Homo sapiens: one gene and its partners. The protein of the gene in region 3 interacts with the protein of the main gene of each other region in a pairwise test. Each region holds a gene or a part of one and is shown on either strand. Other genes may lie near its edges.

What was found.
Region 1: the proteins of TRIM46 (region 3) and UBE2Z interact in a two-hybrid assay, tested with the Homo sapiens proteins (one large-scale study listed by BioGRID and IntAct).
Region 2: the proteins of TRIM46 (region 3) and UBE2U interact in a two-hybrid assay, tested with the Homo sapiens proteins (one large-scale study listed by BioGRID and IntAct).
Region 4: the proteins of TRIM46 (region 3) and USP32 interact in a two-hybrid assay, tested with the Homo sapiens proteins (one large-scale study listed by BioGRID).

Annotation. Positions count from the first base shown.
Region 1 is NC_000017.11:48,920,365-48,925,406, forward strand, and holds part of UBE2Z (ubiquitin-conjugating enzyme E2 Z), read left to right. Parts: intron 1-795; coding exon 796-908; intron 909-2,482; coding exon 2,483-2,573; intron 2,574-5,042. UniProt on the Homo sapiens protein: Catalyzes the covalent attachment of ubiquitin to other proteins. Specific substrate for UBA6, not charged with ubiquitin by UBE1. May be involved in apoptosis regulation.
Region 2 is NC_000001.11:64,259,994-64,267,467, forward strand, and holds the end of UBE2U (ubiquitin-conjugating enzyme E2 U), read left to right. Parts: intron 1-609; coding exon 610-701; intron 702-7,030; coding exon 7,031-7,215; 3' UTR 7,216-7,375; downstream 7,376-7,474. UniProt on the Homo sapiens protein: Catalyzes the covalent attachment of ubiquitin to other proteins.
Region 3 is NC_000001.11:155,175,963-155,183,871, forward strand, and holds part of TRIM46 (tripartite motif-containing protein 46), read left to right. Parts: coding exon 1-269; intron 270-969; coding exon 970-1,113; intron 1,114-1,232; coding exon 1,233-1,328; intron 1,329-2,039; coding exon 2,040-2,293; intron 2,294-2,529; coding exon 2,530-2,651; intron 2,652-2,846; exon of another isoform or gene 2,847-2,884; intron 2,885-3,669; coding exon 3,670-3,972; intron 3,973-4,472; coding exon of another isoform or gene 4,473-4,540; exon of another isoform or gene 4,541-4,717; intron 4,718-5,889; coding exon 5,890-6,187; intron 6,188-7,834; coding exon 7,835-7,909.
Region 4 is NC_000017.11:60,222,316-60,230,666, forward strand, and holds part of USP32 (ubiquitin carboxyl-terminal hydrolase 32), read right to left. Parts: intron 3,917-8,351; coding exon 3,724-3,916; intron 1,272-3,723; coding exon 1,096-1,271; intron 235-1,095; coding exon 94-234; intron 1-93. UniProt on the Homo sapiens protein: Deubiquitinase that can remove conjugated ubiquitin from target proteins, such as RAB7A and LAMTOR1.

The DNA of each region.
Region 1 (5,042 bases), on a different chromosome or scaffold from region 3:
AGGCGCCTGTAATCCCAGCTACTTGGAAGGCTTGAGACAGGAGAATCGCTTGAACCCAGGAGGCGGAGGTTGCAGTGAGCTGAGATCGTGCCATTGCACTCCAGCCTGGGTGACGAGCAAAACTCAAAAAAACAAATAAATAATAAAAAATAAAAACTCGGGGCCCACCATGGTGACGAATGTCTTTAGTCCCAGCTACTCAGGAGGCTGAGGTGGGAGGATCGCTAGAGCCCAGGAGTTTGAGGATTGCTGGAGCCCAGGAAGTCAAGGCTGCAGTTAGCTGTGATGGTGCCGCTGCACTCCAGCCTGGGCAACAGCAAAGACCCTGTCTCCAAAAAGAAAAACTGAAAAAACAGGAACTTACTTTGTTGTCTAGGCTGAACCCAAACTCTTGGGCTCAAGTGATCCTCACACCTTGGCTTCCTGAGTAGCTGGGACTATTAGTTTATGCCACCAGGCTTAGCAACCCTACCATCATTCTTATGTTTGGTTATTTCCCACATAATCTTTACTTGATAGACCTTTCACTTCACATTCAGGAAAATATGATGGATCTAGTTTGCTGGTGATAGGCCAAATGACCTGTAACCTGTTGGTATATTTGGAGGGTGGTGGAGGTGAATGGTGTCAAAAATAAAGGTGTGGTTGCTCTTCATGGATCTGCCATACAGTGGGAAAGGTATCTTTTTAGTTTGTGTGACTGGCTGACATACCCCATACTAATCTTGAAGTCCCTTCCCATTGGTTTTCTTTTTGCTTAATTTTTGGAATACTCTGGCATCTGTTACATTATAGGAGAGACATCCAGGAGACAGCAAAAACTATAATGAATGTATCCGGCACGAGACCATCAGAGTTGCAGTCTGTGACATGATGGAAGGAAAGTGTCCCTGTCCTGAACCCCTACGGTATGTGTCAAGCGGGCTTGCTTGGTATTCCTTTCGGGCATTTGGGTAGTTGGCATCTTTGGGGCAGAGTACAGTGTTGGGTACCAGAGGGAGATAGAGAAGAAGGAAAGATGTGGTTCCTGCTTTTAAAGAACAAGTGGCTGAGGGTTACCCAAGAGGAAGTTCAGAGAGCTACTCTGTTGTTGGAGAATGCCATGCCTTTGGGAGAGGCAGTCCACACGCTCAGGGAGCTTCCAGTTTGATGAAGGCTTGGACGTACTTTTTTCCAGCCAAATGTGTAGAGTACTTCATAATAAGACTCATTTCTTAGTGCTGAAGTTATTTTTAAGTGCCAAAACTGGATGAGCAACGTCAGGGTTAAATAAATAAACTTCTAGGAGAATTTTGAGTAAGGTTTGGGATTGGGGATGGCTGATGAAAAGCAATGGAGGTGGAGCAAGTCATGAGTTGAAGTTGGGATTCAAATGGTGAGTATTGGCTTGGTGGTGGCTCACGCCTGTAATCCTAGTACTTTGGGAGGCTGAGGCGGGAGGATCACTTGAGCCCAAGAGTTCGAGACCAGCCTGGGCAACACAGGGAGACCCCATCTCTACAGAAATTTTAAAATTAGCCAGGTGTGATGGCACGCTCCTGCAGTCACAGCCAGTCAGGAGGCTGAGGTGGGAGGATTGCTTGAGCCTAAGAGGTTGAGGCTGCAGTGAGCTGTGATGACACCACTGCACTCCAGCCTGGGTAACACAGCAAGACCCTGCCTCAAAAAGAAAACTAATGGTGAATATTACAGTCACACTCATAATTCCTGATGTGTAGGGGAAGTCAACCACGGGCAGTTAGGTGTTCCTTTTTCCAAAAGGAACTGTAATCCCAGCACTTTGGGAGGCCAAGGAAGGCAGATCACCAGGTCAGGAGTTCAAGACCAGCCTGACCAACATGGTGAAACCACATCTTTACTAAAAATACAAAAATTACCCGGGTGTGGTGGCACGCACCTGTAATCCCAGCTACTCAGGAGGCTGAAGCATGAGAATCACTTGAACCTGGGAGGCGGAGGTTGCAGTGAGCCGAGATTGCGCCACTGTATTCCAGCCTGGGCAAAAGAGCGAGACTCAGTCTCAAAAAAATAAAAAATAAATAAAATGAAAAGATCTTTGTAGAAAACAGATCTGGACTTGGGAATGGTAGGTATTTAATTTGGCATTAAGGTTAGGTAAAGAGGCCAGGTGTGGTGGCTTGCGCCTGTAGTCCTAGCACTTTGGGAGGCCGACGCAGGCAGATCAGTTGAGGTCAGGAGTTCCTGACCAGCCTGGGCAACATGGTGAAACCCCGTCTCTACTAAAAACAAAAATTAGCCAGGCGTGGTGGCATATGCCTGTAATCCCAGCTTCTCAGGAGGCTGAGGCAGGAGAATTGCATGAATCCGGGAGGCAGAGGTCACAGTGAGCTGAGGTTGCACCACTGCACTCCAACATGGGCTACAGAGCAAGACTCCATCTGAAAAAAAAAAAAGGTTAGGTAAGGAAGGGGTGACCTGTACCCCTGGGTTTCTCACTTACACTTTTCTGCTTGTTTTCCAGAGGGGTGATGGAGAAGTCCTTTCTGGAGTATTACGACTTCTACGAGGTGGCCTGCAAAGATCGCCTGCACCTTCAAGGCCAAACTATGCAGGTAATACAACCCCTGCTGCTAATTGCAGAAGCCCTACAGCTGGCCATGTAAAAGCCCCCCACAAGCGTGGCATCGACAGCTGTCATAGAATGACACAGCTAAGCCTGGGTTCAGTGGCTCATGCCTGTAATCCCAGCACTTTGGGAGGCCAAGGCGGGCGGATCACGAGGTCGGGAAATTGAGACCATCCTGGCTAACACGGTGAAACCCCGTCTCTACTAAAAATACAAAAAATTAGCCGGGCATCGTGGCGTGTACCTGTAGTCCCATCTACTCAGGAGGCTGAGGCAGGAGAATCACTTGAACCCAGGAGGCAGAAGTTGCAGTGAGCTGAAATTGTGCCACTGCACTTCAGCCTGGACAACAGACCGAGACTCTGTCTCAAAAAAAAAAAAAAAAAAAAAAAAAAATAGCCAGGCGCGGTGGCTCACGCCTGTAATCCCAGCACTTTGGGAGGCTGAGGTGGGCAGATCACCTGAGGTCGGGAGTGTGAGACCAGCCTGGCCAACATGATGAAACCCCGCCTCTACTAAAAACACAAAAAATTGGCTCAGCGTGGTAGCATGTGCCTATAATCCCGGCTACTTGGGAGGCTGAGGCAGGAGAATCGCTTGAACCTGGGAGGCCGAGGTTGCAGTGAGCTGAGTGCACTCCAGTCTGGGCAACAAGAGCGAAACTCGGTCTCAAAAAAAAAAGCTAAAAGCAACCTATATCATTTGAGGGACTGAGAGCCAGAGAGGAGACTGATTTTCATGAAGTCATAGGGAACTCTTTACTTTCCTTGGTCAGTAGCCTCTTTTTTTTTTTTTTTTAAAGGCAGGTTCTCACTCTGTTACTCAGGCTGGAGTGCAGTAGCTGGGTCACAGCTCACTGCAACTCCAAACTCCCAAGCTCAAGCAGTCCTCCCACCTCAGCCTCCCAAGCTGGGACTTACAGGTGTGCACCACCACAGCTAGTTTTTGTTTTGTTTTGTTTTTTGAGACAGAGTCTTGCTCTGTTGCTCAGGCTAGAGCAATCTCAGCTCATTGCAACTTCAGCCTCCCAAGTAGTTGGGATTACAGGCATACGCCATCATGCCCAGCTAATTTTTTGTGTTTTTAGTAGAGACGGGGTTTCACCATGTTGGCCAGGCTAGTCTTGAACTCCTCACCTCAAGTGATCTACCTCCCTCGGCCTCCCAAAGTGCTGGGATTACAGGCCCTGTTTTGTTTTGTTTGGTTGTAGAGATAGGGTCCCACTCTATTGCCCAGGCAACTCCTGGGTTCAGGTGATCCTCCTCCCTTAGCCTCCAAACTGGGAGGCTGAGATTATTACAGGTGTGAGCCACTGCACCCAGCCCATAGTGTTTTGAAGCTAAGATGCGTTCAGCCCTCCCAGAATCTTAGGGATTATATGAATCCTCTATTTAAATTCTGTTCCCAGCCCTGAGGGTTGATCACAGAAACAGTAGCTTAGAGAAACAACATACCTGTAGTGTCACATGTTGAAAGATTCCTATTCAAAGATGATAACCATTGTTCATTCTTTGCCTCTACTGGGAAAAGTGTGCTTTTGCTTCCCATAAGAACTCAAAATTTAGGCTTGTTTTAAGGAAGGAGGCTATCATTGACCAAATTGTAGATAGACAGCCAGGTGCGGTGGCTTATGCCTATAATCCCAGCACTTTGGGAGGCAGAGGTGGACAGATCTCTTGAGGCCAGGAGTCCAAGACCAGCCTGGCCAACATGGTGAAACCCCATCTCTACTAAAAATACAAAAATTAGCCAGGCATGATGGCTCATGCCTGTAATCTCAGCTACTTGGGAAGCTGAGGGATGAGAAATGCTTGAACCTGGGAGGCAGAGGTTGCAGTAAACTGAGATTGCACTACTGCACTCCAGCCTGGGCAACAGAACAAGATTCTGTCTCAAAAAAAAAAAAAAAAAAAAGACAAAAATTATAGATAGACTAATGTAAACCACCTGGTTGGTAAGAGAATGAGAATTCTCCTGTCCTGGAGAATCAGTTCTTGGGTGTTTGGATCATCTTACTGGTGGTCTTGCTTAGAAATGGGATACTCGTGGGGCCTGGCGCAATGGCTCATGCCTGTGATCCCAGTACTTTGGTAGGCCGAGGCAGACAGATCACTTGAGATCAGGAGTTTGAGACCAGCCTGGCCAACACAGTGAAATCCTGCCTCTACTAAAAATACAAAAATTAGCCAGATGTAGTGGTGCGTGCCTGTGGTCCCAGCTACTTAGGAGACTGAGGCACAAGAATTTTGCTTGAACCTGGGAGGTGAAGGTTGCAGTGACCCGAGATCACGTTGCACTCTAGCCTTGGCGATGGAGCCAGACTCCACCTCAAAAAAAAAAAAAAAAAGAAAGAAAAAGAAATGGGAGACTTGGATAATTGACTAAGATTTCTTAAGGCTCTCTCCAGCTCTCGTACTATGTCTGTTCACCCACCCCAACACCAACAGCGTAGGAG
Region 2 (7,474 bases), about 91 Mb from region 3:
CTGAGTCCAATGACTGTTGTCCTTATAAGAGAGCAGAACTACAGAGACCCACACGGAAAAGGTCATGTGACATTGGAAGCAGAGACTGGAGTGATGCAGCTATAAGCCATACAATGTAAAGGATTGCTGACAGCCAGCAGAAGCTAGGAAGAGGCAATAGAAGATTCTTCCCTAGGGCTTTCCGAGGGAGGGAGGCCCTGCTGCCACCTTGATCCCCAACATCTAGCTTCCAGAACTATGAGAGAATACATTTCTGTTATTTTAAGTCACCAAGTTTGTGGTCATTTGTTAAGGTGGCCCAAGGAAACTAATATACCTTGCTATACCACATGATGTTTTTATTACTTTTACTATGATGTTTTTTACTATGACATAAGTAGTAAACATGTCATATTCATTTGCTTTTCCAACTTCTATTCTGTTGGAAAGCACATATTGAAATAATTTTACTTTACCATTAAATTAGTCAAGACTCAGAATGGTTCCATATTCAAAGCCTATTGTTCTACTTTTATGTTTCATTTCATTTGTTTCACTTATTTTTCTCAGAAGTAAATATACCCTTACCAAAATTCATTTGGGAATTTAGTTTTCTTTTTCTCTTTCTAGGTATTCCGTTATCAAGTGTTGGCTTGCTAGAAAAAGAATGCCTCATGAAGTCACTCACTCAATGGAAGAAATTAAGCTCTGCCCAACTCTAAGTAAATCGATTCACTCTATTTGTTTTGCTTTTATAAATAACATATTATGCATAATATGCATAACTTTAAACTTTTTTCCATTTAAGTAAGTTGGAATATATGAGGGCTAATCCTTGTGTTCTCCTTTTAAGGTTGCTTTAACTTTTTCTGACTTTCCAAATTAATTTGGTAAATTAGTCACATAGGAATTGGAACTTTGACAGAATTGAGTTACTTATATTTTCAAGCTTACTACCCTTTAATAGGTTGATATACAATTTGAAATTTTAAGGCTAAGTTTCAAAATATGAAAAAGCAGCCAAAACACACAGAGCACTAATAAACTGATCCCTAAAACTCATTGTATATTCAAAGGTATATGCAATATGGTTGAAAAGAAAGAAACAATGCTGAGTTGTTTTTCGTGCTCTTTTAAAAATTACCATTTACTTGTTGGGATAGGTTGAGAGTGAGTCTTCAGCCGGGAGAGCTGGTAACTTACCATGGAAGTCAGCTGGTATAGAGGGGAAAGCATGACATTTGGGGATAGAGAACTTAGGTTCAGATTCCAGTTCTGTGCTACTATGGAAAGGTCACTCAACCTCTGAACTTAGTTTTTTTCATCCTTAGCTAGTACTGTGTATGTGGAAGATGTTCAACAAATCCTAGTTGCTAAAAATCTGCCCTTACTCACAGGATTCTTATGACTAAGTGACTCCATGTATAGACAATTTCTTTGTGAACTGAAAAGTACAAAAAAAAATAGTTACTGTTTTTTCCTGTCACCTGGCCACTAAACATAACAGCATATAAATGCCAGGCACAGGCAATCACCTTCATTCAGTGATTCTCCAAGGGCCCTGCCCCCGTATCTCCAAGTTTCTTTTCCCTGCTCAGTATCCACCTCTCTCCCTCCTAATTGTTTGGTGTGCCACGCAGATTTCCTCCTCTGTATTATCAGCCTCAGCCTTCTCCATTCAACTCTCCCTTCTTCCAGATTTCAGGGTACCTGTGAGGTAGGAAATGTTGCCTTCTCCAGCCTTGCTCTTTGCTTTCTCCATGATTTCCCTACTCCCCTCTGCAATCTCTGTCTTTCAACATCCCCACCATGTTCACCAGTGGAAGAGATCAGTTGGTTAAGTTGATGTGATTACAGTAATTTTTGTCTATGCTTTGTCAGACTGGTGACAAAGCTATGTCTCTATAGCTCAGCTCTGCTTATGTTTTTACCAGGTCTAAAATACTTTGTTTCCCATTTTCCTTCAGGATAAAATTTAGACTCTTTGACACAGAAAATCCTTAATGCTCTAATACTTGTCTCTGTCTTTGCAGTGACATTCCCTCCCTCTCCCCTTCACAACCTAAATGCTACACTAAGCTAGTGGGTCATGATTGTTTGTTCCCTACCTCATTTCATAAAAAAATTTGAGCAGTACACTGTGTTTTCTCATACCCCTACTCTAAATGCTCTTCTCTCCCCTTCTTTACTTTCTAATGCCTATGCATCCTTTGAGATTCAGTTCGGGTATTACCTTTTTTAGGAAACTTTCTTTGTGGGTTATCATAGCACTTCTACCATAGCCGTATCATGCTCTATTTGTTTTCTATTGCTGTGTCACAAATTAGCACACATTGAATGGTTTAAAACAACACACATTTATTATTTTACTGTTTCTGTGGGCCTGGAGTACAGGCACAGCTTAGCTGAATCCTCTGCTTAAGGTCTCAGAAAGCTGCAATCAAGGCTTTGGCTGGGCTGCATTCTCATCCTAGTGGTTTGAATGGGGGAGGAATCTGCTTCCCAGCCCAGTGAGGTTGTCGACAGAATCCATTTTCTTCTGTCTTTAGGAATGAGGGCCCTGGCTTCTGGCTGGGTATATGTGGGAGGCCTCCCTCAGCTGCTGAGGGCTGCACACAGTTCCTTGCCATATGGGCTCTCCCAGCCTGGCCTCCTACTTTATCCAGCAAGAGTCTTTAGAGCAAGTCTGATAGCAAGATGGAGTCATATGTGATGTAACATAATCATGTGAGTGAGACCTTATCACTTGCATCCTATTTTATTGGTTAGAAGTCATGGGTCCTATCCACACTCAGAAAGGAGGAGTTTACACTCAGGTGTAAATACCAGGATGCAGGGATTCTAGGGGCCATCTTGGAGTCTGTCCGGCACACATGCTGTGTTATTACTCTCTTTACTGCCTGTCTCCTTTGAAAAAGAGTGAGATTCTTGAGGGAAGGGACTGCTCACCTCCCAGTCTTCCACAGCACAGTGGTTGGCATACAGTAGCTATCAATGAGTAAGTAAATAGTAGGATGAAGTAAAATTGTCATGTTTTTATCTGCCTTGTGATTTGGGGGAAAAAAAGGTGAAAACCCATGATAAGTGGGGAAAAGGCAAGTTGGAAGAGACAACATTTTAAGTTTAATGTCCAGAAACTGGTTAGCGCTCCAGTGCTGAGCCTTGTCCTCTTTAATCATGGAATAGACTCCTTTCTGTCTACTCTGGAAGAAACTATACCTGAGAGGTTGTGGTAAATTTGATTATTGTTCAGAAATATTAATTCCTGCTCCACCTACATGAACAAAACATGTTTCCTTGTGCCTTGACTTTGAGCTTTTCCCTGTGACCTGTTTTCATCAGTGGAATATTAGTGGGTGCAGTGTGCCCCCAGGGTTTGGAAAGGGTTTGCATGATTTGGCTTGCTCTTTTTCTCTTCTGCCATCATCACCAGAGCGTGCCTGGACTGGCCCTCTGATCACAGAGAAAGATTCAAGGCATAGATCTGAGCTTGCCCACCCACGTTTCCCAGCCATTCCCCAGCCAAAGAAGCCAACCACCTATTGACCTGCTGACATGTGACCAAAACAAATACTTATTGCTGTATGTCACTAAGATTTTGTGGTTGTTTATTATGTAGCAAGAGAGTTATTATGTAGCGAGAATGAACTTATATAGGATATCAAAGGGAAGTATGACTCAGAAAAGGAAAGAATTGTGTGTCCCTCTTTTGCAGAGAAGGATGGCATGTCATAGTTTGCCAGTGGGAGAAACTCACCAGAGATTTGGCAGGTGGGAGGGAAGTTGAGGACATTATGCTTGGGAAGTTGTTCATATCAGGCATGGCGGGTTCCTCAGATATGGCATTTTCACACATCTCTCCACAGCCTCACTTCACAGACATGGTGGCTGCACAAATATCCCCATGAACTCATTGTTTTTGTCCCACTTTGGGTGGCTAAATGTGTGCAGCCTCTTGTACTCTATGAGCTCCTGGTTTCCCACTCGTGTCAGTGCATCAGACTAAAGTGGGTCACGACTCTTTTTTCAATTCTCCAGCTGTAGCTTCCAGATCTTCACTCCCCTGGGTCCTCCCACAGCTGGATAATCCCACATTCCTGTGTTAGACTCTCACTCTTGTATTACTTGTAGTGGCTCTGTTTTCCTAACTGAACCCAGGCTGAAAACAGGACTGAATAGAAATAAACCATTTGGCAATCATCAAAGCCCATCAGTCAGCACAGATTTTAATATCTTTATTAGCTAAACTATTTTCAGATTAAAAATAAATTATCAGAGGCAGAGTTTCCATGATCCAACCCAAGAAAGGCATGGAAAATATAAGGCAGTTAGAATTTGTGCTTCCATAACTTATTTTGTTAACATAGTAACAAAATCCCCACCTTTATTACTGATTCCAACCACCAAATCCAAGGTGTCTCAGAGAGATTTATAATGCTTAAGATTTCCTGGAGGAGAGAAATTCAAAATAATATTGTTTTTTATGTTCTAAAGAAACATTTCTATATTTATTTTGCATTATAGTCTGCTGATCTAGCCAGGTTTCTTTTTATGCTTCCTGGGAGTTTTTAACAGGGCAGGAACTAAGAAGGCAAATAGTCAAGGTGGTTGATTCCCAACTTTCATTCCACGCCAGCAACTCACGTCAGCCAATCATGGTGATCCCATTTCCCTTCCCAGTAACTAGTTTAGAAATGGGGCGGGGCGCAGTGGCTCACGCCTGTAATCCCAACACTTTGGGAGGCCAAGGTGGGTGGATCACCTGAGGTCAGGAGTTTGAGACCAGCCTGGCCAACATGGTAAAACCCCATCCCTACTAAAAAAAAAATTAGCTGGGCATGGTGGTGAATGCCTATAGTCCCAGTTACTTGGGAGGCTGAGGTGAGAGAATCACTTGATCCCAGGAGGCAGAGGTTGCAGTGAGCTGAAAGCACGCCACCGCACTCCAGCCTGGACAATGGGAGTGAAACCCTGCCTCAAAAAAAAAATTAAATTAAATTAAAATAAAAGAAATGGCATGTGACAGGATCCTGCTTGAGGGGAAATATGCTGGGCACTTCAGGGGATGGTTTTGCCGTCCACTCTTAAAAATGAGATCTTGGTGAGAAGATCGCTTTTTCCCCTGGATGTTGCTGTGTCCGGTGTGGTTACTAGAATGGCCGTAGCTCTCTTGCTATGCACCTGAAGATGAAGACAACACCTCAGTTAGCAAAGCAAGCAGTAAGAAGAGCTGTGTCCTTCGTGACATTGTGGAGTCACTGAAAACATTCAGTCTTGCTCTCCACTCTGGCTTTTCTCTTATGTGAGATAAAACACTCTCCTATTGTTTAAACTGGGTTGACTTGGCTTTATATTTCTTGTAATCAAAAGCATGTGGAGTCAGAAAGGCCCAAGCATGGTTAGAAAGAACTGGAGTTAGTCCATCAATAATATGTTCATGGAAAATAAATAGATGCTTTTCTCAAGGCACAGACAGAATTTAGTTTTAAATTAATTACAACTAAATATTAGTACCGAAAGTACAAAAAATTAAAAATCACTGTGGGCCTCAGGATAACCATAGGATAATGGTGACTGTGTAAACTCACATCTCTCTGTGTATCTTTCTCTCTTTGTTTTGTTTTGAGAGGGAGTCTCACTCTGTCACCCAGGCTGGAGTGCAGTGGGTCAATCTCAGCTCACTGCAACCTCTGCCTTCCGGGTTCAAGTGAGTCTCCTGCCTCAGCCTCCAGAGCAGCTGAGATTACAGGCTCCTGCCACCACACCCGGCTAATTTTTGTATTTTAGTAGAGACAGGGTTTCACCATGTTGGGCAGGCTGGTCTCGAACCCGTGACCTCAAGGGATCCACCTGCCTTGGCTTCCCAAAATGCTGGGATTACAGGTGTAAGCCACCATGCCCGGTCTGTCTGTGTATCTTTCTATAAACCAAAGACAGAAGGAAAACAAGTCACTTGTAGCCCATGTCTATAACATTAGAAGACAGCAAATATTACAGGGTTTATTTCATGTGTGAGGGAAATAAACATATGAGGCAAACAAAATTTGTCCTGGAACCCATAATCAGCAGTGAATCCGGTGACAACTAGGAAAAAGGGAAGAGAATGCAGTGAGATTTTAGAGTTAACAGAACATAAATAGTACCAGCTAGAGTTCATCCCCAGAAAGCAAGGTCCCCATGCTGTGTAGAAATATACATCTAGAAATATAGACATTATATCTATATTCTCCTTTTGAAAAGTATAATCAGTTTATTTCCCTGTTTACAAGGCCTATAAGATAAAGATGAAAGTCCTTTGCATGACATATGAGGCTTTCCTGATCTGGCTTCAGCCTCCCTTCCAGCTCCACGAAACTTTCTGTATACTATAACATTGTGTTTTTGGATAGACAGATCTGGGACGAGTCTTGTTATTAGCTGGATATCTTTGATCAAGTTACTATAGGTTGCTCAGCCTCAGTTTCCTCATCTGTAAAATAAGAATAATAATACCTGCCCATCACAAGGGTTGTGTCTGAGTTAAATAATATTATAGCTGTCGACGGGTTAGCACCGCACCTGGCACAGTGGAAGCGCGGGAGAATCCATTCTGATCACCCCTAACCCTGTCAAGTCCTCTCATACCTTTGTGCTTATACGATGTGTGCTGTTTCTTCTATCTAACATGTTCTGACCTCCCTTCTCTGTCTAACAAACTGGTCTTCCTGTTTCAAAGTCCGACTCAGTTTTCACTTAGACACAGTGATTCCCTCCCTGTGCTCCCAAAGCAGCTTTTCCCTTGCACATCAACTGGCCCTTAGCAGAGACCCAGTAAATATATATGCTAAATGAATGAACTAACAAAGCATCAAAAGATTGAGCAAAATGGAAAGAATGATTTTTGACAAATAAAGTTACTTACAAAACATGAAGTTTAGAAAGTGTATAAAAGGTTGCTCACATTCATTCAGATGGTCTTTGGCATTATCCTACAAATGCAGGAACACTTCTCTTTTTATTGTTTTTCTTATTATGTCTATTAAATTTCTATTTTTTATAATTCCCACCACAGATGAAATTTTTCTTGAGTCACCAACTGCAATAAATAGCATCACAGACATTTATGAAACAGAAGAGGAGGGGTGGAAGAGTGACACTTCATTATATGAAAATGACACAGATGAGCCCAGGGAAGAGGAAGTGGAAGATCTGATCTCCTGGACCAATACTCTCAATACAAATACTTCAGAAGATTAAGCAGAACATTATCAGATTCAAAAAATAAACAGCCTCCGCCATAGCCCAGCGTTGTGGAGCAATTTTGGAAGACTCTCAGAACTTGGATTTCATTTTTTTTAAGTTGTTCTCACCCACTCACTGCAAGTACAAATTAGAAATATAAGTACAAATCAGTAAAGATGTTGCTTTGACTTTTTTGAGTGCTACTCCTTTAGAACAAAGTTACCAAAGTTAGGGGTGTTCATTGCCATATGCCAATCAATGGTGTCACACTCCC
Region 3 (7,909 bases):
AAGGTGATGTGGAGCTTGGGGAGCGGGGTCTGGCAGGGCTTTTCCGGAACCTGACCCTGGAGCGTGTGGTGGAGCGGTACCGCCAGAGTGTGAGTGTGGGAGGTGCCATCCTGTGCCAGTTGTGCAAGCCCCCACCACTAGAGGCCACCAAGGGCTGCACAGAGTGCCGCGCCACCTTCTGCAATGAGTGCTTCAAGCTCTTCCACCCCTGGGGCACCCAGAAGGCCCAGCATGAGCCCACCCTGCCTACCCTCTCCTTCCGACCCAAGGTGAGCCAGCCCTTCCAAGGCCTGGGGAGGGAGGGACATGCTGCTGCAGGTGGGTGGGGGTGCCTGGCATTGTGGGTTTCCAAAAGGAAGTGGGAAGGGTTTTCCAATGCTAAGCACCTATCTCTGTAATCTGTCACAAAGTCACTGGACAAATCATTCAACAACTTTGGGCCTCCATCTCATTTACATCCCTGTAGGGGGATGGTAGTATCTGCCCTGCAATGTCCATACCTAAAGGGTTGCTGAGAGGATGGTGTGAGATAATGTTTGTTCACTAAAAAGTGTTACCTGCACACTGAAAAGGTCTGTGTGCATTCACTCACTGAACAAATATTTATTGAGCACCTATGTGCATGGTGCTATTCTAGGTGTTGGAGATACAGCAGTAAACAAGATGGACAAGGTTAATTATTAACTACCAGGCAAAGATTAATTGGCATCATTATTACTGTTATTACCATATATCCCAATGAGAGAGATGAAGGGAGGTGCAATGCTGGTGAAATGGGCACCGCCCGGAGACTGCAGGAAAGGCTCTTTGATGCCAGTATGTACCACCAGGTGGCACTGTGGAGCACCACCAGCGGATGTCTCCACTCCCATCTTGCCAGTGGAGGAGGGCACCAAACTGCTGTAGTGGTAGCATAGCACCCTTACCCACACCATTGTCTGACCATCACATTGTTCTTTGTGTCCCTAGGGCCTTATGTGCCCAGACCACAAGGAAGAGGTGACCCACTACTGCAAGACATGCCAACGCCTGGTATGTCAACTCTGCCGGGTGCGGCGCACCCACAGCGGGCACAAGATCACACCAGTGCTCAGTGCCTACCAGGCCCTCAAGGTAAGGACCCCCCTTATCCAACCCTAGTGCTAACTCACACTCTTACCCTCTTGCACCTCCTCCCAACTGCTGGCTTCTGCAGAGCTGGGCTTGATGCCCACCTCTTTCTTCCCCCTCAGGACAAGCTGACAAAGAGCCTGACATACATCCTGGGAAACCAGGACACGGTACAGACCCAGATCTGTGAGCTGGAGGAGGCCGTGAGGCACACCGAGGTGAGGGAGGGCACAGAGGTAGGCCCTGGGCCCTGCCTGGGAGTAGGGGCAGGAAGGGGGTGTGGGTGATCATGACCCAATCACCTTGTTGCTAGCTCAGGAAGCCCGTGAGGTGTCCAGGTTCTGGTTAAACCAGGTTTGCAGGAACACCAGTGCCCCAGGCCAGGCTGTACCTGGGCTGCAGGAGGGGGCAGGGTGGCTATAGCTCAGGAGAGTGCTCGAAAAACCCCATGCATAGCTCAAAAAACCCCACGCGTAGCTCAGATGCTCTCAGGCTCAGGTGCCTACCGAGGATGTCACGCATTCCCAGTGCTAGAGTGAGGTGATGACTGATACCTTCTGCCAGGTTGCTTGAGCTGGCTGACATGGGGATGGACAACTAAGGATGGCATAGATGCCAGTGGACATTAATTAGTGCAGTCCAAGTGGACATTAGGGTAGCCATGGCCTCGTTCATTTGGATGAGTCACTAAGGGGCAGAGATTATGATGTGGGGTTCCGGGAAGGTTGGCACAAATGACCAGGAGTTGAGTCCATCTAGAGGTGCCTTTGCAGCCATGAGCCCAGGCCCTGTAGGAATGGGTGAGTAGGATTTCCCCAGATCCCTTGTGACCTTAGCCATGCTGTGGCATCCAAGGAGGCCAGCACAAGTGCTGCCTCCAAAAAGAAGATAGTAAGTCACGCATCCTTTGGGTGTTGCTCCCTGGGCAGGTGAGTGGTCAGCAGGCCAAGGAGGAGGTGTCGCAGCTGGTGCGGGGGCTGGGGGCTGTGCTGGAGGAGAAGCGGGCATCACTGCTTCAGGCCATTGAAGAATGCCAGCAGGAGCGGCTGGCCCGTCTCAGCGCCCAGATCCAGGAGCACCGGAGCCTGCTGGATGGCTCAGGTCTGGTGGGCTATGCCCAGGAAGTACTTAAGGAAACAGACCAGCCTTGCTTTGTGCAAGCCGCCAAGCAGCTGCACAACAGGTACTCAGGGGCATGGGCTCCTAGGGGGGCAGGGACATCATGGATGTGACCAACATCTAGGACAATGTCTACAGTACTGCCAGGTGGAGAACTGGCATTCTAAGGATTCTCATGAGGCCAAACTGATACCAGCTCCCAAAGCAGTTCCCAAGGCTCTAGGGGCAAGCAAGACAGAATTGAGGGGAAGGGAGACTGCCCACATGGCAGTGCCTGACCCTTTCTTGCCCCCATCCCAGGATTGCCCGAGCCACTGAAGCCCTCCAGACATTCCGGCCAGCTGCCAGCTCCTCCTTCCGCCATTGCCAGCTCGACGTGGGACGTGAGATGAAGCTGCTGACAGAGCTTAACTTCCTGCGAGGTAAGGAGATGGCCAGGCCCCATGCCCAACCAGAGCCTTCTTCCCTTCCTCCCCAGCAGCGGGCCCGGGGGGCAGTGCCTACCGGGGACCTCCCCGGCCTCCTGCCCGGCCTGGCCAGCCATTCCTCCCACCCAGCCCACCCTGCCACACCGTCCTACCGCGCTCAGCGCTGCTTCTCCCTCTCTTTGTTTGTAGGCTGTGGCCACCGCGGACTCTGCTCCGGAGCACCCCAGGCAAGTCAGCGGCCCTGCCCCGGGGGCCCTGCCCGCCGCCGGGCCCCCTTCCCACCCCGCTGCTCCCACGCATCTCAGCCAACCACTCATTGCTTCCTTCTCTTTCCTGCCTTGCCCCGACCTCGTGGTCCTCCCACTGGACCAATGCCCTGTCTCCCTTCTGCCTTCTTCAGGCGCTTGCGTAATCCTGGCCCTTCTGACCTTTTGTCCTTGTGACCCTTGCCCTCTGGCCTTGCACTTCCTTTCCCTTGACCTCCAACCCCTGCCCTCAGCTTTTGCTGTCCCTCTGTTGTCCCCACTTTCCACCTCGCTGCCTCCTAAATCTCTCTTCTGAGCCTGGTCCCCTTCCTTCCTGCTCAGCGCCCTCTTGCCTGTGGGCTCCAGTGGCCTTTGCCTGCCCCTCCCTGGGGCTCCTCTTAATTCATAGAATAACTGAGCTGCAAGGGCCCCCAGAACTTACCTGATCTGATACCCTCATTTGACAGGGGAGGAAACTGAGGCCCAGAAAGGGGAAGTGACTTATTCCAGGCCAGAGTGAGGTAGCAGCAGCCCAGAACTAGCACACAGGTGTCCTGACCCCCAGCCCAGCGCTTTCCTGCCTCGTTCTCTCTTGGGCCCTGCCCTACCCCTCCTGTGCCCAGTTCCCAGATGAGCCCTTCCCCAGCTCCCTCTCACCCACACTCACCCCCCCGGCTCCCGCTGCTTTCCCTTTTCCTGCCTGCCCCTGCCCTCCATGCCAGGCCAGTGGCCAGGCCCTGACTGACACCCGCTGTCTCTTCCAACAGTGCCTGAGGCCCCCGTCATTGACACCCAGCGCACCTTTGCCTATGATCAGATCTTCCTGTGCTGGCGGCTGCCCCCCCATTCACCACCTGCCTGGCACTATACCGTTGAGTTCCGGCGCACGGATGTGCCTGCTCAGCCAGGCCCCACCCGCTGGCAGCGGCGGGAGGAGGTGAGGGGCACCAGTGCCCTGCTTGAGAACCCCGACACGGGCTCTGTGTATGTGCTGCGTGTCCGCGGCTGCAACAAGGCCGGCTACGGCGAATACAGTGAAGATGTGCACCTGCACACGCCCCCGGCACCTGGTGAGTGGGCAGGCACAGGTGGTCGTGCAAAGGGCATGGGGTATGCCAGGGCCTAGGCCCTGACGGTTGGTTCCGGTGGCCGCTAGAGAGGCCATATAACATAGTAGGTCTCACACACACTAGCTCTGGAGCTAGACTGCTTGGGTTCAAATCCCAGCTCTGCCTCTTGCCAACTGTGTGGGTGGCTTCTGGCAAGTTTTTACCCTCTCTGAACTTCAGAGTCCTTTTCTGTAGGGATAACGATAATACTGGCCAGGTGCAGCGGCTCATGCCTGTAATCCTAGCACTTTGGGAGGCCAAGGAGGGAGGATTGCTTGAGGCCAGGAGTTCAAGACCAACCTGGCCAACACAGCGAGACCCGATCTCTAAAAAAATAAATAGGCCAGGCGAGGTAGCTCATGCCTGTAATCCCAGCACTTTGGGAGGCCGAGGCGGGCGGATCACAAGGTCAAGAGTTTGAGACCAGCCTGGCCAACATGGTGAAACCCCGTCTCTACTAGGAATACAAAACTTAGCCAGGCGTGGTGGTGCGTGCCTACAATTCCAGCTACTCGGGAGGCTGAGGTAGGAGAATCGCTTGAACCTGGGAGGCGGAGGTTGCAGTGAGCTGAGATCGCGCCACTGGACTCCAGCCTGGACAACAGAGCAAGACTCCGACGTCTCGGAAAAATAAATAAATAAATAAATAAATAAAGGCCAGGCAAGGTGGCTCACACCTGTAATCCCAGCACTTTGGGAGGCCAAGGTGGGTGGATCCCCTGAGGTTGGGAGTTTGAGACCAGCCTGACCAACATGGAGAAACCCCATCTCTACTAAAAATACAACATTAGCTGGGTGTGGTGGCGCATGCCTGTAATCCCAGCTACTTGGGAGGCTGAGGCAGGAGAATTGCTTGAACCCAGGAGGCGGAGGTTGCGGTGAGCCGAGATCGCGCCATTGCACTTCAGCCTGAGCAACAAGAGTGAAACTCTGTCTCAATAAATAAGTAAATAAAATACGTAAAAAATAAATTATTTTTGGCTGGGCACAGTGGCTCACGCCTGTAATCCCAGCACTTTGGGAGGCCGAGGTGGATGGATCACGAGGTCAGGCGTTCAAGACCAGCCTGGCCAACATAGTGAAACCCCGTCTCTACTAAAAATGAAAATGAAAATAATTAGCTGGGTGTGGTTGCAGGCGCCTGTAATCCCAGCTACTTGGAAGGCTGAGGCAGGAGAATGGCTTGAACCTGGGAGGCAGGGGTTGCAGTGAGCCAAGATTGCGCCACTGCACTCCAGCCTGGGGAACAGTGTGAGACTCCGTCTCAAAAACATATATATATTTTTAAAAAATGATAATGCTTACCTCATAGAGTTGCAAGAATTCAACTGGTTTGAGACGATCAATGGGAGTCTGAGTACAGTGTCCGGCTCATGGTTAGGGCTCAAGAATGTTACTAAAGTGACTAGAAAATAGTTCGGACTCCAGGGGGTGGGCATAAGAGGGAAGCCTTGCCACCCAAATAGGGGCTGGGTATAAGGGCCAGGTGTGAACCCAGAGTATGGGCTGGAAGGCACAGATTGATGGTGATGGGAATGTCACCAGGTGGAACAGAATAGTGGGAACTGTCCATGGGGCTGGCCACAAGTAAGGGGTTCGAGGGAGCCCCATGAGTCAGCCAGGTCCGGAGCACTGACTTCTGTGCCCACTGCCATCACAAAAACTCTCTGGGGTCCCACGCCCATTTGGAATGCCCCCTTCTTTTTTCCTCATGCCCCCCATTCCAGTTTCCCATGTCCTGTTCTCCTGAACCCCCTGCCTGTTCCTGGTGACTGAACCCCCTTGCAACGCGTTCCCTGTTCTGCAGTCTCACAGCCCCCAGTGCCAGTGTTTGTCCCTGAAGTTCTTGCTCCATCTCAACCCTCTCCCTCCTTCCAGTCCTGCACTTCTTCCTCGATAGCCGCTGGGGCGCAAGCCGAGAGCGGCTGGCTATCAGCAAGGACCAGCGAGCAGTACGGAGTGTTCCAGGGCTGCCCCTGCTGCTGGCTGCTGACCGGCTGCTGACCGGCTGCCACCTGAGTGTGGATGTGGTCCTGGGCGACGTGGCTGTGACCCAGGGCCGCAGCTACTGGGCCTGCGCCGTAGACCCAGCCTCCTACTTGGTCAAGGTGGGCGTCGGGCTGGAGAGCAAGCTTCAAGAAAGTTTCCAGGGTGCCCCCGATGTGATCAGCCCCAGGTCAGACCCCTCTGGAAGGGATGGGGTGTGGGGGTCCTGGTGGGAGTGAGGGGCACAGAAGGGGTGGCAAGTGGAGCACAGACTTGCTAGGGTGGGGCTGGGAGGGGATTAGGAGGAAGTAGTAGGAGCCTGGAAGCCAGGCTGGGAGGCCTGTGTCCAGGAGACGCATGGGCTCAGCAAAAGGGCTTTTGAGGACTGATTTTCAGAGCATGTCGTGTGGTCAGGGAAAGGGATGATAGAAGAGGGAGCCATCTCTGCTTCCTTCCAACCATCTGTCACTCTGGATCAACACACCATCTCTCCAAGCATCTGTGTCCTTTCTTCCTAACACTCCATTTCCAACATACCTTCTCCATAAAACCTTTGCTCTCCAAGACCTCCTTCACCCGTATCTTAAAATTCTTCCCTTAGCCGGATGCGGTGGCTCACGCCTGTAATCCCAGCACTTTGGGAGGCTGAGGCAGGCAAATCACTGGAGGTCGAGAGTTCGAGACCAGCTTGACCAACATGGAGTGACCCCATCTCTACTAAAAATACAAAAAAAATAGCTGGGCGTGGTAGCGCATGCCTGTAACCCCGGCTACTCGTGAGGCTGAGGCAGGAGAATCACTTGAACCCGGGAGGTGGAGGTTGCGGTGAGCCAAGATTGTGTCATTGCACTGCAGCCTGGGCGACAAAAGCAAAACTCCTTCTCAAAAAAAAAAAAAAAAAAATTCTTCCCTTAAACATCCCACCTCCATAACCCTCCTCTCCCCAACTCCCTGTTTTTTTTTTTTTTTGAAATGGAGTCTCGCTCTGTCGCTCAGGCTGGAGTCTAGCGGCGCGATCTCCGCTCACTGCAAGCTCCACCTCCCGGGTTCACACCATTCTCCTGCCTCAGCCTCCCGAGTAGCTGGGACTACAGGCACCCGCCACCATGCCCAGCTAATTTTTTGTATTTTTAGTAGAGACGGGCTTTCACCGTGTTAGCCAGGATGGTCTCAATCTCCTGACCTCGTGATCCGCCCACCTTGGCCTCCCAAAGTGCTGGGATTACAGGCGTGAGCCACTGTGCCTGGCCCCAACTCCCTATTTAACACCCTCCCACTAATGCTTTGCATCCTAAGCCTTCTCCCCAGCACTCTATCCCCCAACACCTTATTTCTTCAAAATGCTTTCTCCCCAACACAAACCCCTCCTAAACCCCATTGTCCCCAACCCCGCATACCTCTAACACCCTTCATTTGTGACACCAATCCACCCTCATCTCTCTCCCGACACCCACCTTCCCAACATCCTTTCTCTTCTTAGTCACTAATCTCGGATTCTTCCAATGTCCTCTAATCCTCAGAACCATCTCCCCAGCATGATTTCCCCAAGACCATTTTTCTCAATGCCTTTCCGCGGGCTATACCAATGCCATGTCTTTCCTGTCCGCCTGCCCCTCTCTTGCCAATGTGCTTTCCTCTCAGTGCTCTCTTTCCACCAAACCCAAACCCCTGACCCTATACTCTAACCCCTGCCTCTTCAGCGTTTTCTTCTCAACACCCAAAATCCATCCCTTCAACCTCTTGCTCCTTAACATTCCATCCTTCCAGCGTCTCCCTCTGGTACCTCATCCGTCACTCCATCCCTCAACAATCTCGTCCCCAACACCCGCTTCTGCAGGTACGACCCGGACAGCGGGCACGACAGCGGTGCCGAGGATGCCACAGTGGAGGCGTCGCCACCCTTCGCTTTCCT
Region 4 (8,351 bases), on a different chromosome or scaffold from region 3:
TACTTTGTGGTTAGTGAGAGTCACATAGAAAAAGTAACAGAAGACCCCCATCTATGACTGCTCCTTATATAAGGCACTATTAACTATACTTACTGGTCTAGGTAAGGCCAGGTTTGCTCCATACCAGTGATAAAGTGCTCTCCACACAGGTTCTGGGACCATTTCATAGTCTCTTCCATGAATCAGCTGTGGAGTTCGTTTTAATCGTCCTCCTTCTAGTGTTAATGATGTAGCCTGAGAAAGAATAGAATGACAATGTTGACTTTCAATATTACAAAAGTTTTTGGGTCTCAGCAATACCTAGAAACAGGAAAACAAACTCATATATCACCACCCAGTTTCATGTTGCTGGAAAAACTTAATTTTTTTTTTTTTTTTTTTTTTGAGACGGGGTCTTGTTCCGTCACCCAGGCTGGAGTACAGTGGCGCGATCTTCGCTTGCTGCAGCCTCCGCCTCCCGGGTTCCAGTGATTCTCCTGCCTCAGCCTCCCGAGTATCTGGGATTACAGGCACACGTCACCATGCCCGGCTAATTTTTGTATTTTTAGTAGAGACGGGGTTTCACCATGTTGGCCAGGCTGGTCTCAAACTCCTAACCTCAGGTGATCTGCCCACCTCAGCCTCCCAAAGTGCTAGGATTACAGGCATGAGCCACCACGTCCAGCAAAAAAACTGAATTTTTAATGAGAGATTTTTATTTTTGACTTTCAAAATAAACTATGTAAGAAATGAAACTCAAAGCATATCATTTGGAAAAATCACTAAAGCACTTGAAATAACTTCACAGATTTCTTTCAAACAATAAAAAATACTAGTTTGGAAAAAAAAATTCATACATAGCGTATGTGAAACAACATTTTCAGAATAGCTGTCCTAAGTAAGAATAACAATAATGCCAAGGGTTACTAAACTACTTCTATGTAAGTTCTAAATCATAAATATTCTCACAGAAATGTACTATACAAAGAGATGTCCATCTATAATACAGTAATTAAATGAACCATCAATGTTTTGCTATGTGCTAAAACCTCTGAAATGAAATTTATTAATAGCTTGCAAGAGAATAATTTTAAGTTTAGATGTAAAATTACTTACCTTTACTGGTTCTTGAGTTACTAATGGCTGATTATCAATAGCCCCTGGTTTCTGAGGGTTAAGGTGCAACAAAATATTCCCATTGGCTCCCAGCAAACACTGGTTGTTATTGTCAGAAGTGTTATGTTGTCGAGCAAAGCAAACATCTGCCCCTGGTGTGGCAGAATACAGAAAGCCTATAAAAAAAAAAGAGGATAGAATCTCTTATTTTTAGTTATTATACATAAACAGGCTTGAGGATATGAACTCAATGCCCATGTATTGTATTACTCTGTTGACATGTCAGTACAGATTAAGATTCTGGTAATTCTGTAGAAGACAGGAAATGTTATCCTTCTCTGAACAATACATGGCATGGTACTAAAAATAAGAGCTTTTAAAATTATTACCAAATGAACATTTGGCCACCCTCCTAGAATATCTAATAATTCATAATGAGAATTATATGTCCTCCGACTGGAAGGGAAGAGCTGGGCTAAGTGGCTGGGCTTCTACATAGCATCCTTTAATTATTTTCCTCAAACTAGAAAAATATTCCAAATGTTCTTGGTAGATAATGGTGATATGAAGTCACTAAATTAAAAGAAAACTAAAACAAGAACTCCAACAAAAGAGTAATGGGGGCTAGATCCTATTGTATCTATGAACTCAATGTCCACAAGTTCTTTTGAAAGAAATACATGATCTTTACAATACGAAAATATGCACAGAAGATGATTAACCATGGCTTAGAGTTGTGAGCCTCAGTGGTATTTTAAGCCATTTCAACTCTCAACTACATGCTAATCTTTGGTAAACAATCTAGCAGTCATCACTTTGTAACCTTCTGCCTGTGGTATGCAGCCTTTGGGTGTCACAAGTTATATGGTAAGCACATACCAAACAGGATCTTTAGATGGGGTTAAGAAATAATCCTCATGTTAAAGCTGATGACAGCACTTCTAGGACTGCTAAGTGATCTTTGTAATACCAGAAAGGGAGGGAAGAAGCAGATTCTACAAGGAGCTTTGTGAAGAAAATGCTAGCTCTGTCCAATTTGCTTACACCTTCCACAGAAAAGGAAAAGAACATCTTGGAAGAAATAATAACACACGCCAGGAGGAATGGCTCATGCCTGTAATCTCAGCACTTTGGGAGGCCAAGGCTGGAGGACTGCTTGAAGCCAGAAGACTGCAACCAGCACAGGCAACATGAGACCTCGTCTCTACAAAACAATTAAAAAATTAGCTGTGTGTGGCAGTGTACACCTGTAGTCCCAGCTACCAGGTAGGCTAAGACAGGAGGATCATTTGAGCCCAGGAACTGGAGGTTACAGTGAGCTATGATCATGCCATTGCACTACAGCCTGGGCAACAGAGTGACACCCTGTCTCTTTAAGTAAATAAATAAATAACAATAGGGTAAGATTGAGGGTTCTGCTACTGTACCAGAATAACAGCAATCAACTCAATTCAGCTGGGCCATAGAAATACCACAGCATCTTCCTTGTAGGTGTGGAAACATGAAGTTTTAGGTAAGTACCAAGGCCTAAAGGGAATTATGGGAGGCATCTGAATTCTTTCTCAGTATTTTAACAAAATAATCTCCATATTTTGGCCTGAAATATACATAGAATCTGATGTGGGGTGCATTTAATTTAATTATGTTTATGGCTAGAGAGAGTCCTGGAGATGACTATCTTTGAAAATTTAAATTTACTGACTAAATAATTTAATAGCAATAGGGAAAGATGGGGCTTGATTGATGAAAATAGTGAAAATAGCCGCATGTGATGGCTCATGCCTGTAATCCCAGCACTTTGAGAGGCTGAGGCCAGAGGACTGCTTGAGCCTGGGAGTTTGAGACCAGCCTGGGCAACATGGCAAAACCCTATCCCTAAAATAAAAACACACAAAAAATGGCTGGGCATGGTGGCGCGTGCCTGTAGTCCCAGCTTCTTAGGAGGCTGAGGTGGGAGAATTGCTTGGGGCCAGGAGGCAGAGGCTGCAGTAAGCCGTGATTATGCCACTGTACTCCAGCCTGGGTGACAGAGCGAGATCCTGTCTCAAAAGAAAATAGTGAAAATATTTCCATATTGAGAGATTTAATGAAGTATAATATGGAAAAGAGGTTTTCTTTGTAAAAATACTAATATATTCAAGAATTTTACAATTGACCATTTCATTCAAAACTTATTTCTGTTAATGGAAGCCTGATCTCCTATTACCATATTCACTACAGCCTCTGTCAAATTAGACTGCCTTAATAACTATCCATGGGGAGGCCAGGCATGGTGGCTCACGCCTGTAATCCCAGCACTTTGGGAGGCCGAGGCAGGCAGATCACGAGGTTGGGAGTTCAAGACCAGCCTGGCCAACATAGTGAAACCCCATCTCTACTAAAAAAATACAAAAATTAGCCAGGCGTGGTGGCGGGTGCCTGTAATCGCAGCTACTCAGGAGGCTGAGGCAGGACAATCGCTTGAACCCAGAAGGTGGAGGTTGCAGTGAGCAGAGATCGCGCCACTGCGCTCCAGCCTGGGCAAAATGTGAAACTCAGTCTCAAAAAAAAAAAAAAAAAAGAAAAGAAAAGAAAGACCTATCCAGGGGGAATAAACCAATAAACCTCAGGGGAATAGGTCATATTTACCGCTGCCAGCAGTTTCTGAGGCTTCAGATGCAGTAGAAATGTTGTCTGAAAATTTCTCTTCTGTAGTATTCACGTAACTGAGGCTGCTTCCAATTCTATCTTCGACCTGCTCCATAGGATGGGCTGCAGTTCCAAATGAGTATTTTCCTCCATTCAAAACAGATGATGGCTCAATTACCACAGGGTTGGCATCCTAAAATCAGGAAATCAGAGAATAAGAAGCAAAGTTTATAATCTGACAACTATGTAGTCTTCAGAAACAAATCTCACAATTATCTATTTTTTTAAGTCTCCTGTGGTTGGCCACAGACATTTAAAAACATTCTAATACATAGCTATATTTTAATCTCTTTCAGGAGGAAAAGTATGTATATAGATAAAATTGGCAAGGTAGACAAAACAGACTGTGAAGGATTTTGTGCCACATAAAGTAATTTACACTCTATTCTGTTGGCAGCCATTTTTTTAACATTAAAAGTAAATAAAGCTTAAATTTTTTTCTTTTCTTCCTTATTTCCCATAGTACATGAATGTATATAATTTTTTTATTATTAAAGATTACATGGTCAATGTAGAAAATATAGAAAACATGAAGAAAATATCACATGTACTCAGATTCCATCATTTAGCAATAACTGTGTTTTAGTTCTTATGACTGAAAAATATGTATATATGTAAAAGATGAGTGGTGTATGTACATAGAGTGAAGGGCAATGCTATGACTTATACCTATGTGACCTTCTACAATAACTGAACACACCTTTAATCCCAGCACTTTGGGAGACCGAGGCAGATGGATCACTTGAGGTCAGGAGGCCAAAATGGTGAAATCCCATCTCTACTAAAAATACAAAAATTAGCTGGGGGTGGTGGAGGGCTCCTGTAATCCCAGCTACTCGGGAGGCTGAGGCAAGAGAATCACTTGAACCCGGGAGGTTGCAGTAAGCTGAGATTGCGCCACTGTACTCCAGCCTAGGCAACAGAGTGAGACTCTGTCTCAAAAAAAAAAAAAAAAAAAAAAATCATATTTTTTTCTTTCACCAAACATTGTATTGTTTATATAGTGCTAATATGCTAATCTAACATTTCATATTTTCTCTATTTCTCTTTTTAACAAAGAGAGAACAATCCTAAATAGCAGAGTCTTCAAAAGGCAACACTATTAGCTGGAATTTAATAATATTATTGCCTTCTATTTCTGGCAAGCGACACTAGTTTTCTTTTCTTTTTTTCTTTTTTTTTTTTTTTTGAGACGGAGTCTTACTCTGTCACCCAGGCTAGAGTGCAGTGGCGTGATCTCGGGTCACTGCAACCTCCACCTCCCAGGTTCAGGAGATTCTCCTGCCTCAGCCTCCCGAGTAACTGGAATTACAGGTGCATGCCACCAAGCCCAGATAATTTTTGTAGTTTTCATAGAGATAGGGTTTCACCATACTGGCCAGGCTGGTCTTGAATTCCTGACCTCAGGTTATCTGCCCGCCTGGGCCTCCCAAAGTGCTGGAATTACAGGCGTGAGCCACCATGCCCATTCAGTTTTTCTTTTCTTTTTTTTTTTTTTGAGACAGGGTCTCGCTATGTTGGCTAGGTCAGTCTTGAACTCCCGGCCTCAAGCAATACTCCTGCCTGGGCCTCCCAAAGGGCTAGGATTAAAGGCGTGAGCCACTGTGCCCAGTGGACATAAGTTTTCTACTTAAAGTAGTGATATAAAGTTTCCTTTGAAAATATGATTAAATAACTAATTAATCACAAACAGTTATAAATTTCTTTGTTCCTTGTCTGTTACCACTGCTTCACTTTAGTAGCCAAAAAATTTTTTTAAATTTTAAGTAAAAATGGCATAATTATTTATGTAAGTTAACTGTATGGCATTACATGAGAAAAATGGTGACCATAGTTTAAAAAAATGATTAAGAAGTAGGAATCTATATTACATATGAATTTTGGACCATCAATTTTTAAAATTTAGATGGTTCACCAAAGTAGTCAAAATTCTTTTTTTTTTTTTGAGACAGAGTCAAGCTCTGTCGCCCAGGCTGGAGGTCAGTGGTGCAGTCTCGGCTCACAGCAACCTCCGCCTCTAGCTTCAAATGATTCTCCTGCCTCAGCCTCCTGAGTAGCTGGAACTACAGGCACCTGCCACCACACACAGCTAATTTATGTATTTTTAATAGAGACAGGGTTTCACCATGCTGGCCTCAAACTCCTGAACACAAGTGATCCACCTGCCTTGGCCTCCCAGTGTGCTGGGATTACAGGCGTGACCCACTGTGCCTGGCCTAGAAACCAAAATCCTGTAGACAAGACAGTAGAACCAAAATGATCTATGTCAAAAAAGAAGTATAAATTAGTCCTAAGTGTTAATTTTCTTAAAGATAATATCAAGCTTCTCACAGCTTTTCTAATATGGAATTCATACCAACACAAAATACATGACATTTAAATTAGGTTTCTTTTTTCTTTTTCTTTTTTTTTTTTTTTTTAATTAAAACAAGTTTTGGCCAGGGATGGTGGCTCATGTCTGTAATCCCTGCACTTTGGGAGCCAAGGTGGCTGGATCACTTGAGCTCAGGAGAGTTGGAGACCAGCCCGAGCAACGTGGATAGATCCCGTCTTTACAAAAAAATATTAAAAAAAAATAGTGGGGCATGGTGGTGTGCACCTTTAGTCCCCAGTAACTTGAGAGGCTGAGGTGGGAGGATGGCCTCAACCCAGGGGGTGGAGGTTGAAGTGAGTTGAGATCATGCCACTGCACTCCAGCCAGAGCAACAGAGCGAGACTCTTTGTTTTTTTTGTTTTTGTTTTTTTTTTTGGTAGAAATGGAGTCTTACTGTATTGCCCAGGCTGGTCTCAAACTCTAGCCTCAGGTAATCCTCCTGCCTCAGTCACCCAAAGTGGTGGGATTACAGGTGTGAGCCACCTCACCTGGTTAAATTAGGTTTCAAAAGAAAATTTTCCATAAACATAAATGCCTTATTATTTAAATCAATTCAACTTTTTTTTTTCACTTATGCTTTTTGATTTTTTTAGTCTGGAGTATAGCAAAGGCTCTTTTTTTAATACAGGGTCTTGCTCAGTCGCCTATAGCTCACTATACCCTTGAACTCCTGAGCTCAAGTGATCCTTCCACCTCAGCTAGGACCACAGGCATGCATCACCATGCCCAACTAATTTTTAAAGTTTTCATAGAGATGGGGTCTCAATATGTTACCCAGACTGGTCTCAAACTCCTGGAGGATCCAAACAATCCTCCTGCCTTGGCCTCCCAAAGTACTAGGATTACAGGCATGAGTCACCCGGCCAAAGGCATTTTTTCATTTTTAAAGTTCTCTATGTGATCTCACTACATATGCAGCCAGAATTAATAACTATTGCCCTAGTGAGGATTATAGTCTCATGCATTTGTTTTTATAATGTGCTCCAGATGTTAAGAGCTTAGAAATTGACTTGTTATTAAATCTGCTACCTGCTCTGGAACTTGTGTTTTAGAAGAAGATTTAGATTTATTTAGTTTTCAGGTCATTTGCTTCCTGCCCATAAAGATGGAGCAAGACAGACAGCAAAACCATTTTGAAAGAGTAACAGCGCCACCTTTGAGAAAAATTAAAGTCTTCCAAGTCACTTTGTTTTCCTCCAGAAAAATCACTTTAGTTTTGCTATAAGTGATCTTAAATGATGTTTCAATAACCATCACATTTTTGGCAAGGTAATCCGTTTATAAATTTATACTCACTTCTATATTCCATTTATATAAAGTTGATGCATTACAAATTACTTTTTTTTTCCTTCTTTTTTTGAGACAGAGTCTCGCTTTGTTGCCCAGGCTGGAGTGCAGTGGTGCAATGTTGGGTCACTGCAACCTCTGCCTCCTGGGTTCAAGCAATTCTCCTGCCTCAGCCTCCGGAGTAGCTGGGATTACAGGCACGCACCACTGCGCCTGGCTAATTTTTGTATTTCTGGTGGAGACAGGGTTTCGCCACGTTGGCCAGGCTGGTCTTGAACCCCTGACCTCAGGTGATCCACCTGCCTTGGCCTCCCAAAGTGCTGGGGTTACAGGCGTGAGTCACTGCGCCCGACCACAAATTACTTTCTAAAAAATTTGTAGTAATATATTTTGAGGAAGATTGGGTCTATTTGAGCAAACAATTTTCTTCAAGTTTTCCTCTAAGATGGGCATGTAAGAGAATTTCAAGGAGTAATATTTGGAATTGTATCTTAAATGTTTTAACATGTTTGAAAGTCTTACATGGTGCCTATGTTTCTAAAGAAAATGTAAATGAAACCATTCCTGTAATAATGCTTCTCATTCTGAAGAGCTCAGTCCATAGGTTAAATCTATATATATCACTGGCAAGAAAACAGGATAATAAAAATATTACCAGGCATTAAATTTGCTAGGCTAAATTTTATAATAATTTGTGAACAGGATGATTCTAATAACTTCTCAGAGATTGCAACATTTGCCTCTAGCAACTGCGGTTCTACCACATGCTTTTAACATGGTACAGTGAGTAATAACCTTTAGACTTGGAGAATATGGGCTTTTCTTTGCTTCTCTTCCAATGCTCCAAACAAACTAGACTGGTCTGTCTTCTCATTGTCTTCGGCTTTCTTTTCTATTACAGGAACCT